2 separate regions of the Homo sapiens genome follow, and region 1 is linked to region 2. The links come from fine-mapping of genetic effects on plasma protein levels. Region 2 holds a variant in brackets. A gene starts in the other region. All regions are shown on their forward strands.

Region 1 (5,000 bases), not on the chromosome of region 2:
CCCACAGGCTCCTAACACCTTGCTGCTTCTCCAGGTGGGGTCTGACGTGGAGTCAGCTCACAGACCTGCCATTCCTCTCTCATAGTACTCCTCATTCCAGTGATATCTTGGCCTGCTTCATGAACCCTGAGCCCAGAGTTCCTAAAGCACCAAACCCAGTGAAGCAGAGACACTTCTGGCATGGGTCTGTGGGTTGCTTCTCAGGGGCCAGGCCAGCAAGAATGATTCAGCACACAGGCCAACCTGTGCAAGCTTTATGCATGCATTTTAGGGCAATGGGAAGAGTGGTGAGTGAGGTTTATGGTAAATCTTTAACCACATTCAATTTTTTCTAAGACTTTTCTGCTTTAGAACATGTAGAAATGGAGAAATGACCAGGGGCTGCACAATGCTGTGCTTATTATATTGCTGTAGAGAGAAGGATGCTGCCAGCTCTCCATAGCCTGGGGTGAACTTGGCCTATGTAATGAGGTAGCAGGGAGTCAGGCAGGTGAGTTCTTCCTCTTGTATTGCCTTTTCCAGTAAATGCCAATACACTCCCCAGCTCACCTTTACCTAACATCTAGGTCTTAATCCAAGTTGTCCTCCCACTCCCCAGGGTGAATTGATCTTCCTGCCACGGCACCTCCTGAGCATCTGTTGGCTGAGTCTCCATCCCCACCCGTGAAAACAGCCTTGTGATGTGCTGTTTAATATCACAGAATGGAAACAGTGTTTTGATTCACCAGGATCCAAACACTCTTTTTGTAGAATCTACAAAGTGACATGGATGGCCATATTTTAGAGGACTGTTCCTGCAGCTGGTGGGGAAGCCCTGGTGAGGAGCAGTACAGCAGGCTGTTCTGGCTGGCTCGTTCTGAGCTGTAGGGATGTGACGGAGGCAGGAAGAGTGAGGATGCAGAGGAGGGGAGGACCAAGGAAGTAGAAATGAGCAGCAGCCTGGTAGGACCTGGAGGCTGGTAAGACTTGAGGGGAGAAGCCTAGGATGGGGCTCGGATTTACTATCACAGAGACAGCCAATGGGGTGATGTCAGGAGAAAGGTTGAGGAGTTCAGGTTGGGATATGTTGAATTTGAAATACCTGTAGGGTGTCCAGGCAGAGTGGATCTGAGCTCAAAAAAGTCTGGCTGGAGACTGAGCTAGAGAGAGATGTGGGAGTTCCAGGCATGTGTGGTCCCCAAGAAGGACGGGCAGAGCACGGGTTCTCCCCTGTTTTTAATCCCATACCCTGACACTTCAAATGACTGTTGTGTTTTACTTTCTCTAGTTTATATCAGGAACCCAACAATGATGACAGTAGCTGTTATGGACTGAATTGTGTTCTCCCCCCAAATCCATATGCTGAAGTCCTAAAACCAGGACCTCAGAATGTGACCGCATTTGAAGGTAGGGTCTTTAAAGAGGTAATTAAGTGCACAATGAGGTCACAAGGATGGGCTCTAATCCAATATGACTGGTGTACTTAAAAGAAATAAATATTAAGACACAAACACACACAGGGAAGACCAAGTGAGGATACAGGGAGGAGATGGCCATCTGCAAGCCCAGGAGAGGAGTCTCCAAAGAAACCAACAGTGCTGACACTTTGATCTTGGATTTCCAGCCTTCAGAACTATGAGAAAATAAATTTCTGTTACTTAAGCCACCCAGTCTGTGATAGTTTGTGATGACACCCATAGCAGACTAGTACAGTAGCTAACACTGGATACTTATTATGTGTCAAATACTGTTTTAAGCACTTTGCATATTTTAACACATTTAATATTCATAGCAACCCTATTTGTGGAAGGTAGTACAGTCTACGGCACGGCAGCTATATCGGCCCCTTTATTTTCCCCAGGGTTTGGAGTCTCTTCCACTTTCCAGCTTGTCCTCCTGCCCTTCACTCTACCCGGGACCATATCCTCCAGATTCTCACAGGTCCCTCCATCTCTCCTCAGGTGCCAGGCTCAGCAACCTGCCCTCATTACCTGCCAGTTCCTGACCCTATCTGTCACTAGCTCCTTACCTGGCTGGATTGGTCTTCTGAATACTTGCCATTCCCTGGCATGATGCTTTTGCAAAATAAGAAAATCAATAATAATAATAATAACTGCTAGTGTCTAATAAGCATGTGCTCTTCAATGTCTATTCTCTTACAACTACCTTAACAAATAGGGACATATTATTATTCTCCTTTTAACTTTGCTTTCCAGAGAAGGAGGCTGGGGCTCAGGGAGATGAGGTGAGTTTTTCCAGGTCTCACAGGAACAGGACTGAAGGAAGGAAGCCATGTTTGCCAGGAGAAACCAAATGGACATACAGGCTTTCTGTGGAATACACAGTTCCTGCTATCTTTTGGTTGACAAAGTCTGAGGTCCTAGGAAAGAGAGGAAAGTAATAGAAATATGAATATGAGTGTGTGTGTATTTTGCTTCCCTCACCAAAGTTTTCACAGTCTATATTAATGAGGGCACGATTTTGCCTGTTTTGTTCTCTGCCATATCCTCATTGTCTAGATTAGGTGCCTGCTACTGTGGAGCTCTAAGAGGTTGTTAGAGAAAGAATAGAAGAAAGAAAAGAAGGAAGGAAGGAAAGAAGGAAGAAAGAAAAGAAAGAGGGAAGGAAGGAAAGAAAGAAGGAAGAATGAAAGGAAAGAAGGATAGAAGGGAGAAAGGAAGGAAAGAAGAAAGAAAGGAAGAAAGGAAAGAAGGAAGGAGGAAGGAGAAGGAGAAAGGGTAGGGTGGGGAAGGAAAGAACAAAGGATTGCTTTTCCCTCACTGTGGGCTTGAGCCTGTTCCCTCCAAAGATACAGAGCTTTGGTCTTTACCCATAAAAAAGGATTTTGAAGTCACCCCACCCCGTTCTGTTCCCCCACAGTTTAGACAAGATCCTCATGCTCCACTGGCCACACGAGTGCCCTCAGGAGGAGTAGACACAGGTGGAGGGAGCTCCTTTTGACCAGCAGAGAAAACAGGATGGGGCACTGCCTCACTGAGGACCTGGGGGTGGGAAGGAAAGTGCCAACGGCAGCTCTATAAAAGCTCCCTGGCCAGGGGACCTAGGGCAAGCAGTGGTTTCTCCTCCTTCCTCCCAGGAAGGGCCAGGAAAATGGCCCTGGTCCTGGAGATCTTCACCCTGCTGGCCTCCATCTGCTGGGTGTCGGCCAATATCTTCGGTAAGTTCTGAGGCCATGGAGCCAGGCGGTGGGGAGGGAGCTCCAGTGTCAGCCAGGCTCTGCCCTGGGCCTTCGAACAGGTGCGATCTAATTTAATCTTCACAAATTCCCACATGTCAGTGATTTGCTTTTTTTTTTTCAGATGAAGAGGCAGATTTAGAGAGCCGAACTGAATTACTTGAGGTCACAGAGCTAGTGATTGATGGAGCAGAAATGGGAAATGTGGTTGATCTTCCTAATTCAATTCTAGGTCCTCCTCACCCCACCATTTTGGCAAACTTTTGGCATTGACCTTGGGTTTTTATCCCCTTAGCTATTCCAAAGTCTGTGTCATCCATAACAGGTATTTTAGAAGCAGTAGAAAAAGAAATCTACCTATGAAGTGAAATAGCCCTAAGTTCTGTCTTTGGCTCAGCCACTTACCCATATGACTTCGGGCAAAGTGCCAAGCTTCTGTTTTTTTTTTTTTTTTTTCATTTAAAAAGTAAACAAATAACACACACCTCATGATGCGGTTGTGATTTCTGGGTAGGACCCTATGTGTTACAAGAGTTCTCAATGGAAAAATAAGTCATGTACATTATTAATTAATTGGTATTTCAATGTTTATCTGGAACATGTTACATCTGCAGGGCATGGCTTGATAGATTCAAGAAGAACTTCCTTACGGTTCTCTAACTTACTCCAAATAGCCTCATGGGAATTGCGGCAGGGTGGGGGCGGGCGGGGAACGTGTAGTCCCAGCGTTGATTTTGGGATCCTTCACTTGCCAGTTACGTGACTTTGGGCAGACGACTTTCGCTGCCTGAGACTTGGTGCCTCATGAGTGACAAGGATATATTGCCTGTCACCTCTTAGGAGAATGTTGCACATTAAATGAGCTAATGTCATACTTGTAAGAAAGTGTGCTTAGCTGCCAAATTTTAAAATAGGCTGTCATAGGTAATGATGATGACCCTGGAAAAGCATCTGTGCTTATGAGAGCCCGTCTCTGTCCTGGCAGCCCAGTCCACACTCTTCTTTGATGAACCACTTTTCTTTTCCTAGAGTACCAGGTGGATGCCCAGCCCCTTCGTCCCTGTGAGCTGCAGAGGGAAACGGCCTTTCTGAAGCAAGCAGACTACGTGCCCCAGTGTGCAGAGGATGGCAGCTTCCAGTAAGGCTTATGTCAGCAGCGAACTCTCAAGGTCCAAGATGCCATAAAAAGCATCTTGTGCCTTCCCCCCTCTTCCTGAGCTCTGCCCTGCAACTCCTTTGTGCATGTGAGGCTTGGCCACTGTCATTTGGAGGTGCCTGCCTTTCAGTTCCACTGTCATTTGGAGGTGCCTGCCTTTCAGTTCCCCAAGCTGTTCAACACTGGACAATCTGACCAAGTGAACCCCAATCCATGCTTCATCCTCCCACTGCCCTCCCTTCTCTTCTTGCCATCACTTTTTCTGTGATGGCTTGAATAAACGGCACGTGTGGGGAGTGGGGCAGGTTGAGGAGAGTGTCAAATGATCTGTGCTTTGGGACCTCTCCCTCCTCCAAGTATCCTCTTGAGAAGCTGGGGTGGTGGAAGCAGAGGCTGCCTTGACTTCCTAGTCCTTAGCTGCCACCGACCCTGCCCGGACTAGCTCTCTAGGCTGCCTCTGGGCTTCTGGGTCGCTGTCTCCACATTGAGCTGCTCTCTGAAAGGGGTTTCTCCAGCTGCCCTAATGCAGACTTGGGGCCTGAGACCCTCTCTGTGGAGAGTGTGGTAATAATCTAGACAATTCTTCCCTGCAGAATAGACAGGAATCCTTTGCAATGTGCATGCATTGAAATTTCCTTGTGCTATTCCAGTCATGTTGAATCAGGGGAA
Region 2 (5,527 bases):
TGGGCTACATATTCGTTTGTCCTAAGTCCTGGTTGTTGAGTCTTCTTCATTTTGAGATCTGGGCTGGAGGAGAAATCCCTCCCTGGAACACACTGCCCTTGCAAAAGAAGGAAATGAGCTGTGTAACCTGATGATGTTTTTGAAAGTTTCTGCTCAGATGTAGCCCACGTAACTTTTGCTCACTTTCCATTGGCAAATGCAAGTCATATAGCAAAAGCCGATCTATGGGATGTGTGTGTATAATTCTCTTAAATACATGGAGGTTAACTGAGTGGGGACAGTAATGGTACAATACCCATCGAATAGTAACCTCCTTATCATCCTTCAAGAAGCAGCTAAAAATGTCATCTCTTCAGTATCATTCCATGGAAACATCTATCTCCCTGTTCTGTTCTACAGCATTACAACATTGAGACTTTCAGGACAATGTGCTGATTCCCCTACTACTTAGTGAGCCCTTTGAGGGCAGTGATAGTCTCTTATTTTATTCTATCTTCCCGTTACTTAGAACAGTCCCTGGAGCCTAGTACATTGTGCTATTATTGCTTACTTAGGGGAAAAAAAGGTGGTGCAATAATGCATGGAATCAGTCTTGAAATCCAAGGAATATTAAGAGAAAGTTATAAAGGAGGAGATGGAGAAAGACCAAAAACTGACTTTTGCACTTTTAAGTTGAGCTGTGTGTGTGTATATATATAATAGATATACAAGAAATATAGATGAGGCAGCTGCATTTATAAGCCTAAAGTTTTGGAGACATTTTCAGGGTGGATATATAAATTTGGCATACATTGGCAGTCATCAGCACATAGACGGTGTTATCACCTAAGAAAAGAATGGAGAAAGAGATGTTTATGATGTGTTTCCCATTTCCCACTTCCCACTTCCTGACTTGCCCAGAGACTGTAAGTCAGAACCTCTCCTTGGACAGACTCTTTTTTTTTTTTTCTTTGAGAGGGAGTCTTGCTCTGTCACCTAGGCTGGAGTGCAGTGGCGCAATCTCGGCTCACCGCAACCTCCGCCTCCTGGGTTCAAGCAATTCTCCTGCCTCAGCCTCCTGAGTAGCTGGGACCACAGGCGTGGGCCACCATACCCAGCTAATTTTGTGTATTTTTAGTAGAGATGGGGTTTCACCGTGTTAGACAGGATGGTCTCGATCTCCTGACCTCGTGATCCACCCGCCTTGGCCTCCCAAAGTGCTGGACAGGCTCTTAAAGTGTCTTCTAAAAGATCAACCTTGGTTGACCGTAGGTTTTTCATTAGAATGGAGACATATACTCAGCCTCAAAACTCTAATTTGACCCTCTGTTCCTTTGGGCTTACTTCTGCATGGAGCTGGGTTATATTATTATAGGGACCTTCAAAGTGCATTACCCGTCACCCCCGGACGCCTGTTGCATGAGCCATCCAAACCACATGTCTGTCACTCTCTTCCCTCCTCTTCCCCCATTTGTCATGTTGGTAGGATGACAGCTTTGTATTGAGTGAGTAATGAGGGCCAGGCATGATGACAAATGCCTTGCATGTGCTATCTCATTCCATCCTCACCACAACCTGGTGAGGGAGGCATTGACTCAATTTACGGATGTATTCAAAGCTCAGAGAGGTTAGGTAATGTGCCTCAAGTCAGCACGAGTAAGAAGCAGGTCTTTTGAATGGAAGTATCTCTCAGTGCAGATTCCATGCTCTCCATAAGCCACCAAGCTGCCTCAAACACAAACAAATCATTGAGAGCTGAGTCTTCTGGAAAGAGATATTTACACTTTGCAGGTAAAGAAACATACGCACATACACACGATACGTCTATATCTGTGTGTAGATATAAGTATACTTGGATTTTTTAAAAAAACAATATGTTACATAATTTCCTGCATTCTTAAATAGATAATGAATAATATTTAATAATTCCTCCATACTTTTATTTCATGTCTGCTCTGTGCCTCGCATTGTGTCAAGAGCAGTGTTTTGAACTTATTTTGAATTAACTGTTGTCCTCCAAAACTCTTAAGGGTTTGCGGTTTAACTGAAGAGAGGTAAGCTACATGCTGCTCTATGATCACCCTGACCCCCAATGTGATGGTATTTGGAGACAGGGCCTTTGAGAGGTAATTAGGTCATGAGAGTGGAGTGCTCCTGATGGGATTAGTGTCCTTCTAAGAGACAGGAGAGAGCTTGCTTCTTTTCTGTCTGCTCTCAGCTATGCCAGGACATAGCCAGGAAGAGGGCCTTCACCAGAACCCGAACAGCCTGGTACCTTGATCCCAGACTTCCATCTTACAGAACTGTGAGAAATACATGTCTGTTGCTTAAGCCAACCAGTCAATGGTCTCCTGTTACAGCAGCCTGATTAGTTCAGACACATACACATGTATGTATAAAAGAAGAACAGATCATATTAAGAGGAATAAGATACTTCTTTTTAAATGTTAAAGGCCTTCTAATTTGCAAGTCTTTTTCCTGTGTATAATTTCATTTGATCTTTGAAATAATTACCGCTATTTAGCAGACAAAAAAAATTGAGGCTGGGAAAATTTCAGTATTTGTTGAAGATTACACGACTAGTAGATGCCAAAGCTGGGAAATAAAACCCAGGTTCAAATCCAAGATTCCCTCTGGTAAAGTGAGGCTGACTCTTTACGGGAACAAGCTTCTCTCCTGTTCTCCAGGACCTCTGAGGAAGGAAATCTCACTCCCTTCTTCCGGCACCCAGGAACCTCGCTCCTTTATAGGAATGAAGTTCTGGTGTTCATTTTTGCTAAACTGCACTCGTGGGTTTGGCTGAGTGATGCCTGAGGCTGGGGGTGGCGGGCAAGAGAATGTGTGTGCCGTGTAGCTCCTGCCAGCCCTGCAGAGCTGGCATTTTCTACAAGAATGCTTGCTTCTCAGAAACACTGTTGATAATGAGGTTGCTCATTTTTAAAATGCTGTAACTGATATTCTGGGAAAACAAACCTGGTTCCAGAAGTGCAGCTGTGGTGTT[T/C]GGATTTAAGCTTGGAGGTAGTTGTTTAAGATGAGCTTTTAGCTGGCCTGACGACCTGTCAATGGACTGCGACGGGGCGGCACAATCAGGCCATTGTACTAACAGAGAAATCTCAGGGCTCTTCAGAGCCTAAGAGGATTGTGAGAATTCCTGAACCTGGCACCTACTAAAGTGGACTTTTCACCTCTTGGGACCCTGGTAAAGATGAAGAGAGAGAGAGTTTCAAATCAAAAGAAATGTGCCACGGATTACAAGAAATCCCCTCTAGCCTCAGTCAGACTTGGAGGACATGCAAATGCATTTGAATGGAGGAAGACTATTTGGGGCCCCTGGGAAACAGGGTGGCACAGAGCAGTTTCCTGGCCTCGAAGAGGATGCAGTTTTCCAAGATGTGGGGTTTGCTTGTGCATCTCCATGCGCAGGGCAGGGGGCTCAGCACAGTAATAACCAGAGTCACACACCATAGGCAGATCCCTGGCTCTGCTTGGAGGGACAAAGATTCAGAGCTGGGCGGATCATCAATAGACCATCTACACCAAGCCCCTGACTCCTGAACTACATTCTTTCCATCATACCCGTCACTCCATGTCTATTTTCTCAGTATTGAATGAGAAAGGAAATGAATGTTTACTGCATCTAATTATGTGCCAGGTGCCTCATTAAGTTTATAATGGAAATCACACAGTATGATAATAGCCAATATTTAAGAAGAATCTAGTAGGTGCAGGCATGAGTCTAATTGTTGGATACACATTAACTTATATTTAATTCTCACAATAGCCCCAAGTGGTAGGCTGTGGTGAGTATCTGAGACAGAGGCACAGAGAAATGTTCTTAGCCAGCAAGCAAAAGAGCTGAGATTCCCCGCCGATGGCTGTCTGACTCCAGAGACCTGCTCTTTGCCTCATGTCAAGGGTACAGCCTGAATCAGATAAGGTTCTCTGTCCCCAGTCTGGACACATGGCCCCTTTTGAAATTGTTCCAGAACAAGTTTCTTCCTCTTTTCCTACCTGACAATTCCTCCAAGAGGCAGAGCCAAAGGAACCTTCCACTCCAGGATTCATCTGAAAGTCCTCAAAGACAGCATCTCTTAGCATTACATTGCTAAAGGTTTTAAAAACCTGCCAGTCCTTAAAAGTTTACCAACCCTACTGAACCAATAGGTATCTAGTGGTGACAACACTGGCTATATTTTTAAAAATTGGCATACATTGCACTCAACACTTCTGTTTGTTCTGTGTTCTGCTTTTAATTGGTGCTTCATATTCTACATAATCTAATTTAGTAAGTCTTTTCTTTGTGAACTGTGTATGTCAACTGATAGAAAGTAGATCCATTCTCAAGGAGATAATCATAGGCCGGAGCTAAAGAAGAAACATCTTTACAAAACACAAACATGAACATGGTAACCTTTGGTTTGCAAATTACCTGGAGATTTTTTAACCCTTTGGGATCTTGTTTCTCACTCACTATCTCATCAGTCTGGCTTCTTCCCACAGCCTTGCCCTGGAGGCTCCAGGCACAGAATTACAGTGGCACAAGCCCTTCTAGGGTGATTGTGCCTTGCACACACAGCTCCCTGAACACATTCAGACCGAGCACCACATTCCTTCTACCTGGCTAACGCCTGTGAATCTGCCAAAGCACCATCACCCCCTCCAGGAAAAATACCTTCACCAGACAGCATCTGGGAAGTCAAGTCCACTTCCTAGAGGTTCCCCTGTACTCTGTGTCTACCACCTGCTATCCTGACACCTATCACCTCCAACTGTTATCGGCCAAGTCCTGATGACATTGTGAATTCTTTGAGGCAAAGACTATACTCCTTTGACTCTATATCCTCAGAGTCTTGATACCATCCTGGCACACAGCAGAAGCTCAAAAATGCTTGATGAGTGAAGGATACACATTTATAAATCCACTGTTTAAATAGAGTTTAGGGTTTTCAAAGGGCCCAGGCATATGAACCTCCTTTGTAAATCACCCCAAATCAAATACAATGTTCACAATAACATACAAGGATGGGCTCCATCAAACTAATTCAAATGCATAGCTGCAGCCTGTTCTTTGCTTTTATTTTAGTTTTTCGTATTGGGTAGATTTTTTTATGGGGGCGATGTTTTGGAGTACTGTGGTACAATGTTCTGCACCATAAAGAAATTTTAGTGTTTAGAAGTCAGAAATTGAGTCTGACTGTGAACTACAGCAAAGTGCATGCATGTAGGCTGTGCATTGACCACAGAATGCAAATGCTGAGCCATTATAATATATCTAGATCTACACAGGTAGGCAGATAGCTAGATATAGATACAGATATACATAGATAGAGATATAGACACAGATACAGATATTGTTATGTAGATAAATAGCTGGATATAGTTTCTTGTTATATACAGAGGAAGGTCTTGATCTTAGTTTTAATACTGAAGACACAGGCAATAATTAGCAAACTCATAAATTCGAGTAATGTTTATTTAATTTCTGGCAAATAAAATCATGATATATTTGTTTGAATTCAGTTCTCTCAGTATATTACATTTATTAGTC

Direction of the effects. Positions count from the first base shown, and alleles are read on the strand shown. Strength reflects both the effect of a copy and how common the allele is.
For the plasma level of the protein whose gene starts at base 3,048 in region 1, C is the high allele of the variant in region 2 and T is the other (weak association).

Evidence for each region. PIP is the posterior inclusion probability: the model's chance that the variant is causal. The UK Biobank Pharma Proteomics Project read protein levels with antibody pairs (Olink). The fine-mapping took linkage between variants from a reference panel, not from the people measured, so its PIPs are less certain.
Region 1: it holds the start of TG, and the variant in region 2 is fine-mapped to the plasma level of the TG protein (UK Biobank, PIP above 0.99).

What each region holds. Positions count from the first base shown.
Region 1 is chr8:132,863,911-132,868,910 of GRCh38, forward strand. It overlaps TG (thyroglobulin), which reads left to right and starts at 3,048. Exons shown (of 48, transcript NM_003235.5): 1 at 3,048-3,157; 2 at 4,205-4,313. The coding sequence starts at 3,091.
Region 2 is chr2:217,369,083-217,374,609 of GRCh38, forward strand. The region is part of intron 8 of DIRC3 (disrupted in renal carcinoma 3); the gene reads right to left. Among named protein-coding and RNA genes, the nearest start is that of DIRC3-AS1, 89 kb to the left of the region's middle. RefSeq lists an enhancer at 914-2,113. The variant T/C (reference allele first, on the strand shown) is at 2,981.